Regions from separate parts of the Homo sapiens genome. Here regions 1, 2 and 4 are each linked to region 3. The links come from fine-mapping of genetic effects on gene expression. A gene starts in region 3. Each other region holds a variant in brackets. All regions are shown on one strand. Distances are between the middles of the regions.

Evidence for each region. PIP is the estimated chance that this variant, and not a neighbour inherited with it, causes the effect.
Region 1: its variant is fine-mapped to the expression of PSMF1 in lymphoblastoid cells (GTEx, PIP 0.97).
Region 2: its variant is fine-mapped to the expression of PSMF1 in nasal epithelium (TOPMed, PIP above 0.99). The same link has a PIP of 0.9 or more in lung and pancreas.
Region 4: its variant is fine-mapped to the expression of PSMF1 in whole blood (TOPMed, PIP 0.99).

What each region holds. Positions count from the first base shown.
Region 1 is chr20:1,086,893-1,089,580 of GRCh38, forward strand. No RefSeq gene overlaps it. Among named protein-coding and RNA genes, the nearest start is that of PSMF1, 30 kb to the right of the region's middle. RefSeq lists an enhancer at 1-200. The variant G/A (reference allele first, on the strand shown) is at 1,568.
Region 2 is chr20:1,163,955-1,166,642 of GRCh38, forward strand. PSMF1 (proteasome inhibitor subunit 1) reads left to right here. Exons shown (of 7, transcript NM_006814.5): 6 at 364-522; 7 at 1,075-2,688. The coding sequence ends at 1,126. Among named protein-coding and RNA genes, the nearest start is that of TMEM74B, 20 kb to the right of the region's middle. The variant C/T (reference allele first, on the strand shown) is at 1,450.
Region 3 is chr20:1,117,455-1,120,142 of GRCh38, forward strand. It overlaps PSMF1 (proteasome inhibitor subunit 1), which reads left to right and starts at 1,148. Exons shown (of 7, transcript NM_006814.5): 1 at 1,148-1,448. The coding sequence starts at 1,320. LOC105372493 (a long non-coding RNA gene) reads right to left here and starts at 994. Exons shown (of 2, transcript NR_136535.1): 1 at 930-994; 2 at 398-534. RefSeq lists enhancers at 899-1,541, 941-990, 1,001-1,050, 1,061-1,250, 1,291-1,420.
Region 4 is chr20:1,142,293-1,144,980 of GRCh38, forward strand. The region is part of intron 4 of PSMF1 (proteasome inhibitor subunit 1); the gene reads left to right. Among named protein-coding and RNA genes, the nearest start is that of PSMF1, 25 kb to the left of the region's middle. The variant A/G (reference allele first, on the strand shown) is at 1,139.

The DNA.
Region 1 (2,688 bases), 31 kb before region 3:
AACATAAAGGCAGCAGCTACAGCCCCTTACACTGGGCCTTCTGCAGCCTTTCAAGTTGTGATGTGGCCTGAGAGAGGAAACTTGCAAATATGATTAAGTGTGGGTGAGTTGTTGAGTTGTACCAGGGGCCATGCATTCATTCATTCATTCATTCATTCACTCAGTCTCACAAGGCACCATGCTAAACACTGGATGTACAGTTTTCATTGATCATTCATTCAATCAATCATTCATTTACTAATATCCCTGGATCAAACACTGAGCTAAGCTCCAGGGCTATAAGTTTATTGTTTAATGGGAGAGGCAGACAAGAATTAAATAAATAAAAACAATTGCTGTTAAGAATAAAGTACCAAGAACTAAATAAACTGAGTATTCATCCAGCGAGGAGAAAGAGATCATCTTTACAATAGGTACTTAGGGAAGGCCACTCTGAGGAGGGAACAGTGCCTGTAGGCACCATGATACATAGAAGCCAGTTATTTAATACAGGGCATAAGGGGATCATATGTCAATAGAGGTTTGTACTGTTGCCATGTTTGGGAGGATTAAGGAAAGCCGCAGAGAGCAGATGTAGGAGTAAGTGTAAGCCAGTTAATGCTGTTGTTACAACCCTGAAGTCTGAAACCACAGAGGTAGATATTTTGCTCAACACACGTGTCGTGGTTTGGCTGTGGCTCTGCTCACACCATCATCGTCATCCTTACTCCAGGGCCCAGTTGCTGAGGCCTAAAGAAGAGAGAATTCTCAAGGGTTTCAAACCTGCTGTTAAATGCTCCAGCCTGGAAGAGACATGTGTTACTTGTACCCACAACTCATTGACCAGCTCTTATCACATAACCTCAATCCAACTACAGGGGGGCCAATAAGCAGTATCCTACACTGTGTCTGGGAGATACAGACATGTTTGGTGAAGAGCCACCTCACTGTGGACTGAGCTTTGCAGCAGAGAAGCAGGACATGTGAATTGCAGACAGAGGAAATAGAATGTGCACAGACACAGAGGGATAAAATAGTTTGGAGTGTTCGGGTAGCTAGAGTACTGGCAGGGCTTAAAATGGAGCTGAAAAGGTAGCCATAAAACCCCCTGAGATGGGTACTATTATGATTTTCATTTCTGAGATGATAAAATTGAGGACACAACTAGTGAATGGTTGAACTGATACTTGAACTGACACAGTCTGATCCTAGCATCTGAACTTTTAATCCTCATGCCATATTGCCTTTAAGGTATGGAGGGACCAGAATACAGAAGATCTTTAATGCCAGGAAGGAGATCGGCCTCAACAGGCTAAGCAGTAATATTTTTACAAGTCTTGGTTGTGGTTGTTTAAAATACACACATTTTTTATGCATATTAAATATACAGATACATTCTTCTTTCCTAATAAGAAATGCGGTCCCCCTTGATTATTTTTAAAATGGGAGATTCTCTTAGTGTATCTTTTCTTTGCCGTCTTTTGATATAGAAGAGCTTTCAGGGAAGTATTTCTTTACAGTAAGAAACAACCCAAGGATAATTGTTAATAATCACTGAAATTCATTTTCTCCTTTAAGGATACAGTCA[G/A]GAATGGTGGGATCTGTGGTAAACTAGAAAGAATTATGTCTCTTGCAAAGAGGGAAGTTGTTGTTCACTTCCATCCTATTGTCACATGTGGAAATGTGGAATAATTTAAATATTTTAGATATTTTGTGAAATCTCACAATTTTAAAATATCAACTTAAAGCATGGTACAAGCCTAACAAAACACATCTGTGAGCCAAAATGCTCATGGAAGCATTGATTTTTGTCTTCCATATGGTGGCCAGCCTCTAAGATGGCCCCAAATTATCCCACATCCTGGTATTTATTCCTTTGTGTCATCTTTTCTACATTGAATTACAACTGGCCTGAGTGATCAGTAGAATATGGCAGAAGTGACAGCGTGTGACTTCTGAATCTAGCTCCTAAGGGCACTGAGCTTCCACCTTGTTCTCTTAGACTGCTCACTCTGAGGACAGCAGTCACCATGCCATGAGGACACTTAAGCTGTCTTGTGTTGAGGCCCATGTAAAAAGGAACACAGGCCCCACCCAGCCTATAGCCAGTATCAACTGTCCAGCTATGTAAGTAAGTCTCCTTGGATGTGGATCTTTCAGCCCCAGTCAAACCTTCAGATGAGCATAGCCCCAGCCAATACCTAACTGCAACCTCATGAAAGGTCCTGAGCCAGAACCACCTAGTCAAGCTGCTCCCAAATTCTTGACTCATAGAAACCATGACAGATTGGTAAATGACTGTTGTTGTGTACAGCCAGTGGTTAATGAACTATCTCTAAAGGGCCTAAAAGGAAGTATTTTTGTCTCTGTCACGATAATTCAACTCTGCAAAAGCAGCTATAGATGATACATAAATGAATAGGTGTGGCCGTGTTCCAACAAAACTTTATTTACAAAAACAAGCAGCAGGCCAGATTTGGCCTGAGGATTTTAGTTTGTCAACTTTGAGTTTAAGCCACTATGGTTTGCAATTTGTCATGTGGTCATATATAACTAATCCACTCCCTGAATTCGTGAAGTGGCCTGAATAGAACATGTTTCAGACAAAGCACATTGTTAGTAATTTAGAGGCCAAATTAGAAGAAGCTAGTGGAAGGGTGAGCCTGGAAGGGCAACGGTTCTAGGAAGAGATGATGGGCCCAGGCTTGG
Region 2 (2,688 bases), 46 kb after region 3:
TTGTGAGTGCATTGTAGTTGACCTTGGCAAGTTCTGGCTCTTGGTCTTGATCAAGTTGGCCCTCTTGAGTATATGATATGGCAGGGATCTCAATTTTGAGGAGCCCTACAGAACCAAAAGCACTGTGCAGAACCAACCCCTGCAGAGCCAGAAGTACTCAGCTGTGAGGTATGCTCTTCGTATAGGCTTTGTGTTCTTGCCCTTGCCCACTTTCCGCTGGCTCTCAGGCAGCCATCCACATGTCTGCTTGGGCCATCCAGAGTAGACATCCCAGCCATTCTTGGTGCATTGTAACCTCCCTCGCCTTTTCTCCAAGGGCAGTCCTTGCCACACCTGCTTACCTAACTTTTCTTCTTGCCTCAGGCCTCGGAGAGGTGGCATGATTGTGGATCCCCTGAGATCTGGCTTCCCAAGAGCACTTATTGACCCTTCCTCAGGCCTCCCGAACCGACTTCCTCCAGGCGCTGTGCCCCCAGGAGCTCGCTTTGACCCCTTTGGACCCATTGGGACCAGCCCACCCGGGTACGTAGTCACTCAGGTATGCTGAGAAGTAGGACCTGATGGCAGCTTGGTTCAGTGTGGCAGCAATGAAGGTTTCTAGCCCCAGGCACAGAGCTGCCGCTGCCTTCACCTGTTGCTGCCAGGAGAGTGGAGCCTCCTCCAGGGCCCTGCCTGATTTCTCCCTGGAGCCTTCTAGGAGCTTCCTATCCCTCAGTGCCTCTCTTTCCCCAGCTCCACTCTGGGGAGGACTCAAAGTAGGAGGAACTAACAATTCTTGAAAGTTAAGTATGTGGCAGAAACTCAGTGGATCCTTTCTTCAGCAGTCTTGGGTAGATGGTGGCGTCTACATTTTATAGATGCAGAAAATGAGGCCCTGAAAGATTAGGTAACTTATACCAAGCGGGGGAGTCAGGATTCAAACCCCGGTTGTCTGGCTCTTGAGTGCATGTGTTTAAATTCCTCACACCGCCACATCATGTTGAAGGGCAGGCTCCCTCAGTGCAGGGTCATGTCTGCCCATGTTCCCCTGGTCTCTCCATCACTCCAACTCATCAGCCCCTCTTTCCATTCCAGACCTAACCCAGACCATCTCCCCCCGCCGGGCTACGATGACATGTACCTGTGAAGGCCTCAAGAATGTAACATCCCAGGCTTCCCTCCATTCTCCTGGAGCTGCCACCGCTGTCCCCATCAGCAACCATGTTCTTGCAGGCTGGGGGCAAGGGATTCTGCTCATGTGTTTGCAGACCGGCTGGGATAGCCTCCCCACCCCTTATCAGAGCCAAGACACCTGCTGCAGCTCTCCACCTAGCTGCAGATAGCTCCCAAAGAGAAATCAGTGTGTCTCTTTCACCATCAGCTCCTCCCCTTTCACCACCAGCTCCTCTCCACTTCCCAAGGGAGACTCCGGCAACCTTCAGCAACATATATCCTCGACCAGATGCAGTG[C/T]TATAAGAACAGAACGCATTTTGGATGTTATTATTAAGAACCAAATGTCAATACAGAATTCATGTTGCCGGTTTCCCACTTTTCTTTTTACATTAATGCATAGCTGCTTCCATTTATGAGACTTTAGAGTTTGAGTTTCTGTAGGGCTGAATGACTCTTTTTCCTGCCCAGGGCCCATTCTTGCTTCTCAGGCACCTTCCGTTTATTAATTGCCATTGCTCCTGACATCACTAAGATGGGTCCCCTTCTGGCTGCATGAATGGAAATGAGTGACTGGAAATCCCATAGGCCACAAGAATGACTTTCACAAGGGCAGGAACATTGTGGAAAGACTGCATCATTCTGATGAGGCAAAATCCTCCAGCTATTCCTGTCTGGGCCAGTTTTGTAGGTCCATCTGTGCATGGGCAGCAGTAGTCAAAAAGCCAAGGAAAAAACAGAGCAGACCTGAAGGCTAATCTTATTTTTGCCACTAACTTAGTGAATGACCCTAAGCAAGTTCCTTCTCCTCTTAGGGCCTTGTGCCAAGCCTATGAAATTGGAGGTGGCTTTCCTGCTCTAAAGCATTTTGATGTCTCATTCTGTGTTTGGTAACCCCTATAAACTGGGGCAGAGGAAAAGAATGATGGTTCAAGGCCATACTTCCCTTGAACCTTGTGTGGTTCTTGCCTAACTCTGTGGTTTTTGGACCCCATGGGGCCCAGACAGAGCACAGGAGCATGGGCTGCCTCTGAGTGTGGTGTTGAACTTCGGGAGGAGCAGGGAGCCCTGCACCTTGTGTCCTGGCCCACCTGACCTTTGGTGTTCTCCGGATCCTTTTCAGCCCGAGGCCTGACAGACGCGGGCAGTGATGAGCCCTGTTCTGGAGTGGAAAGAGCACGATAGAGCACCAGGCTAAGAGGCACGAGATCAAGGCGGTAGTCACTTCCGCTCTGCAGCTAGCATTTCAACCATATGTGGATCCTTTCATTTCTCAGCTCCCTGGATTCCTTCCCCTAAATTAGGACCTATTATTTACCTGTAGGTAAGCAAGCTACTGTAGCTCTTCTGAGGTATCTGCCAGGCTGTTTTCTGTAGCCTCAGATTGCCTATCTGCTTAGCCTGAGAACAGGTAGATGAAAACTAAACTGATGCCTAGGCCCAGGGTCAGTCTCAGATGGAAGCTGGGCCTGGGTGGGGAGGCTAGCATGCGTGGCTCCCTGGGTATTTCTGTCAGTCCCCATGGCAAGCAGTGATTTA
Region 3 (2,688 bases):
TGCCTCAGCCTCCCGAGTACCTGGGACTAAAGGCGTGCGCCACCACACCCAGCTAATTTTTGTATTTTTAGTAGAGACAGGGTTTCACCATGTTGGCCAGGCTGGTCTCAAACTCCTGACCTCAAGTGATCCGCCTGCCTCGGCCTCACAAAGTGCTGGGATTACAGGCATGAGCCGCCACACCTGGCCGATCTGACTTGTTTTCTAACAGAATCTCTCTGGTTGCGGAGTGCAGTACAGACTAGAGAGAGACAGGAATGGAATGGGGCAGTTCTGAGGCTGATGCCAGGCATCCAAGTGAAAGATGACAGGAGCTTGAACCAGGTTAGTGACTGGGATGGGGAAACTAAATTTATTTGGGTAAAAACAATAAGTGGATTTCATGAAACTTGTTGAAGTAACGGGTGGTAAAAATCATAAAGGGGGTAGGCAAATAAATGATTGAAATTTGATAGTGGGTCAGGAGCTTCAGCTCTGCGGGCAGCAGTTGTGTCTCCTTGGAGAAGTGGTTTCAACTCTGAGCCGTTTTGTCATCTGCAAAATGGGGATAATAACGGTCCATACTTCATAGAGTTGTTGAGAGGGTGATGTAAAGGTTTTAGCGCACGATGTAGCACACAATAAACACTTAATAAATGTTATCTTAGAAGCCAGACTGCCAGGTTCCCATAACCATTTCAGCCGTTCACCGGCTGGCTGTTGTCATCTTGGTCAAATTATCCCTCTGCGCCTCAGTTTCCTCATCTGTGCAATGAGGCACATTAATCGTTAATATCAACTGCATAGAGTTGGGTTGTGAAGATTAAATAAATGAATACAAGTAAAGCGTTTAGAATAATGTGGACGGTAGCAAGCACGGCGAACGTGTTAACGATTATTAAGAATGTATTTTAGCCACATTTCCCAGCCCCTTCCCCGGCCTAGCATACCCCATTTTGTGGATGGGAAGTCTGCCTCTCAGCAAGGTGGCCTCTTGGAGGACGCTGTGCCCGCGTCAGGCGATCCTGTCGACTGCCGCCAAGACCCGGCTTCCGGCTTTGAGGGGCCACGCCCCGCTCGCACTCCCTGGCGGAACCTTTCAGTGCTGCGCTCGCGTTGCCAACCCGGCGCGCCTCACGCAGTTGCGCCCGCTGTTGGGACTACTTCCGGCTTCCCCGCCCCGCCCCGTCCCCGGGCGTCTCCATTTTGGTCTCAGGTGTGGACTCGGCAAGAACCAGCGCAAGAGGGAAGCAGAGTTATAGCTACCCCGGCCGCGGAGCCGGCTCACTGCACTACCCCCGCCCCCTTCTTTCCTCCAGACGCCGAAGTCGCGGGCGCTCATGGCGGGCCTGGAGGTACTGTTCGCATCGGCAGCGCCGGCCATCACCTGCAGGCAGGACGCGCTCGTCTGCTTCTTGCATTGGGAAGTGGTGACACACGGTTACTTCGGCTTGGGTGTCGGTGACCAGGTACGCCACGGAGCCGGCCAGGGTGGAGGAGGGAACTGTCTTCTGCCCAAACTCAGAGTACCGGAGGCCTGGTCCAGAGCGCCCGATTTCCCCGCTTCTCCCAGTGCAGGGTCTGGGGCAGATGGCAGCGTTGGTAAAACCTGCGGGTCGGAGGTTGCTCACCTGCCCCATCCCAGCCCAGAGTCCCTCACGGCACAGCTGGCACAACATGATTTGTAAACTCAAGGGCGGACACTCGCTTCAACACAGCCTGGCAGCCTCTCAGGCCAGGACTGTGTGGATCTAGCATTCCATAGAATGGCAAAGAATCTAGACAGGAGTTTAGCTCCCCAGAGCACTTCTCACCCACCTGATCCCGTCTGAACTCCTTACCACCCAGCCTCGGGGTGAGGGGACTGACTCAGTTCCGCCCTCATACCACAGTAGAGCCTCCACCAAACATCTGGATCCAAGCACAGGTACAGGAGTGAGCTTTGACCTACTCAGCCCCAGGCCAGGGCCCTTTTTTCACCCGTTAGCATGGGCCCAGAGAGTTCACACGCCTTTCACCCTTTACTGAAGGGCCCAGCATAGTCCACTCGCTACTGCCATCCCCAACTCAAGCTCTAGGAAGCAATCACCCCCAGAGTCGTACACACATACACCCTGGGTGTGAGGGTCATATAAGATTTTCTCCTCATAGTTGTCCCCATAGGGCCAGCCCCTCTTCTCCCATCCCCAGGCTCCACCTCTTACAGCTAGGGACGTCGTTGTCATCCCCACAGAGTTCTAGGACTGCTGGACCCAACCCACCTCACTAATTCTTTGCTCTGGCATTCTTCTTTCTTTCCTGTCTCTTCCCTGTGACCCTCATCCCCAACATCCACATCATCCTAGACATCTGCTTCCTGGGAGAAGTGGGCCTGCCTCCATGCCTGCCCCTCACTGTCACTGTTCTCTCACTCTCAGAACCAAGACTAGCCATGGGAAACAGACCACCCCACCTATTGCATCTTGCCATGAGATTTCACCCTTCCTCTCCTTTTTGACTGCTTCAGTTCTCAACTCCTCTAATCATTTTTTTTAGCTTCTCAAATAGAGTCTTAATTCTCCCCTCCTGACATAGCTTTAGGGACCTCTCTTCAAACTTGCTTTGTACATTCTGAGCACTTAGACAAGTATCCCCTTTCCCCCACCCCTCACTGCTGTCCCTATTCCTCTCTGTCTCTTAGAACTAAAGACCAAGACCACCATACCCCTC
Region 4 (2,688 bases), 25 kb after region 3:
AAGTTTTAGGGTACACGTGCACAACGTGCAGGTTAGTTACATATGTATACATGTGCCATGTTGGTGTGCTGCACCCATTAACTCATCATTCAACATTAGGTATTTCTCCTAATGCTATCCCTCCCTCCTCCCCCCACCCCACAACAGGCCCCGGTGTGTGATGTTCCCCTTCCTGTGTCCAAGTGTTCTCATTGTTCAATTCCCACCTATGAGTGAGAACATGCAGTGTTTGGTTTTTTGCCCTTGCAATAGTTTGCTGAGAATGGTGGTTTCCAGCTTCATCCATGTCCCTACAAAGGACGTGAACTCATCATTTTTTATGGCTACATAGTACTCCATGGTGTATATGTGCCACATTTTCTTAATCCAGTCTATCATTGTTGGACATTTGGGTTGGTTCCGAGTCTTTGCTATTGTGAATAGTGCCGCAATAAACATATATGTGCATGTGTCTTTATAGCAGCATGTTTTATAATCCTTTGGGTATATACCCAGTAATGGGATGGCTGGGTCAAATGGTATTTCTAGTTCTAGATCCCTGAGGAATCGCCACACTGACTTCCACAATGGTTGAACTAGTTTACAGTCCCACCAACAGTGTAAAAGTGTTCCTATTTCTCCACATCCTCTCCAGCAGGTATAATTCTAACAAAACTTGTATAAGATTTTTATACTGAAAACTACAAAATGCTAGTGAAAGAAATCAAAGAAGATCTAAATAAATGGAGAGACATAACATATTCATGGATTAAAAAATCAGCATAGTAAAAATGTCAGATACTCCACAAATTGATACACTATTTTAATGCAATTCCTATCAAAAATCCCAACAAGAATTTCTGCAGATATAGCAAGATACAGCAGATAATATTTATATGGAAAGGCAAAGAATCTAAGATAGCTATAACAATTTTTTAAAAGAATAAAGTAGAAGAAATCATTCTACCCAATATTAGGGCTAATTATATAGCTAAAGTAATCAAGATGGTGGAATTGGCAGAGGGACAGACATATAGATAAGTAGAACAGAATAGTGAACACAGAACTAAGACCAGCCAACTTTTGACAAGGGTGCAAAAACAAGTCAATGGAGGAAAGAATGTCTTTCAGTAGATGATGCTGGAGCAATTGGATAATC[A/G]CAAGCAAAAATATGACCCTTGACCTTAACCTTCTATAAAAATGACCTCAAAGTGGATCATTGATTTAAATGTAACATACAATACCACAGCACTCCTAGAAGAAAACACAAGAGGAAATCTTCAGTGTCTCAGGCTTGGTGAAGAGTTCTTAGATACAGCACTAAATGCACAGTGTTTAAAAAGATGCTAAATTGGACTTCATTGAAATTTAAAACTTTTGCTCTGTGAAAGACCCTGTTAAGAGGATAGAAGCATAACCTACAGTTTGGGAGGCAATGCTTGGAAACCATATATTCAACAAAGGATTCATATCTAGATAAAGAACTCTCAAAATCAACAGCTTAAGAAACTATCCAATTAGAAAATGGAAAAATGAAGGCCAGGCATGGTGGCTCATGCCTGTAATCCCAGTACTTTGGGAAGCTGAGGTGGTTGGATCACCTGAGGCCAGGAATTCGAGATCAGCCTGGCCAACATGGTGAAACCGTGTCTCTTCAAAAATACTAAAATTAGCGGGTGTGGTGGTGCATGCCTGTAGTCCCAGCTACTCGGGAGGCTGAGGCAGAGGATCACTTGAACCCGGGAGGCGGAGGTTGCAGTGAGCCGAGATGGCACCACTGCTCTCCAGCCTGGGTGACAGAGCAAGACTCCGTCCCCCCCAAAAAAAGAAAAAAATGGAAAAATGATATGAAGAGGTAGTACACTGAGAAGGATGTACAGATGGCAAAGAAGCAATGAAAAGATGCTCAGCATTGTTAGCCATTAAGCTAGGTGAAATGCAAATGAAACCACAATGGGAGTTTCACACCTATTAGAATAGCCAAAATTAAAAATAGTGATGATACTAAATTCTAGAGAGAGTGCAGAAAAACTGGATCATGTACACTGCTGGTGGGCATGTCAAATGTTACAGCTACTCTGGAAAATCATTTGGCAGTTTCTTAAAAAACTAAACGTGTACATAATAGTTAGCTCCAGGAATCACACTCCTGAACATTTATCTCAGAAAAATGAAAATTGTGCCCACAGAAAAACCTGTACACAGATGTTCAGAAGAGTTTTATTTGTAATAGCCAAAAGCTGGAAATAATCTGATGTGCCTCCTCCAGTGATGAATAGTTAAAGGAACCGTGGTTTATCCATACTGTGGAATACCACTCGGCAGCATAAAGGAATGAATTGTTGAAACACAGCAATTTGGTTAATCAGAGTTATTATGCTGAGTGAAAGAAGCCATTCCCAAAAGGTCACATATTGTGTGATTCCACTTACATAACATTTTTAAAATGACACAGTTATAGAGGCGCTAAACAGATTAGTGGTTGCCAGGGGTTATGAGGGCAGGGCTGTAGGTGTGGTTATTAAGGGGAGTAGCATGAGAGAGATCTTTGTGGTGGTTTAACTATTAGAGGAAACTGAGTGAAGTATATTGGAACCTCTTGTGCTGTTTTTCCAACCCCCGTGAATCTTTTTTTTTCTTTTTAGACAGAGTCACCCAGTGTGGAGTGCAGTGGTGCGATCTCGGCTCACTGCAGCCTCCGCCTCCCGG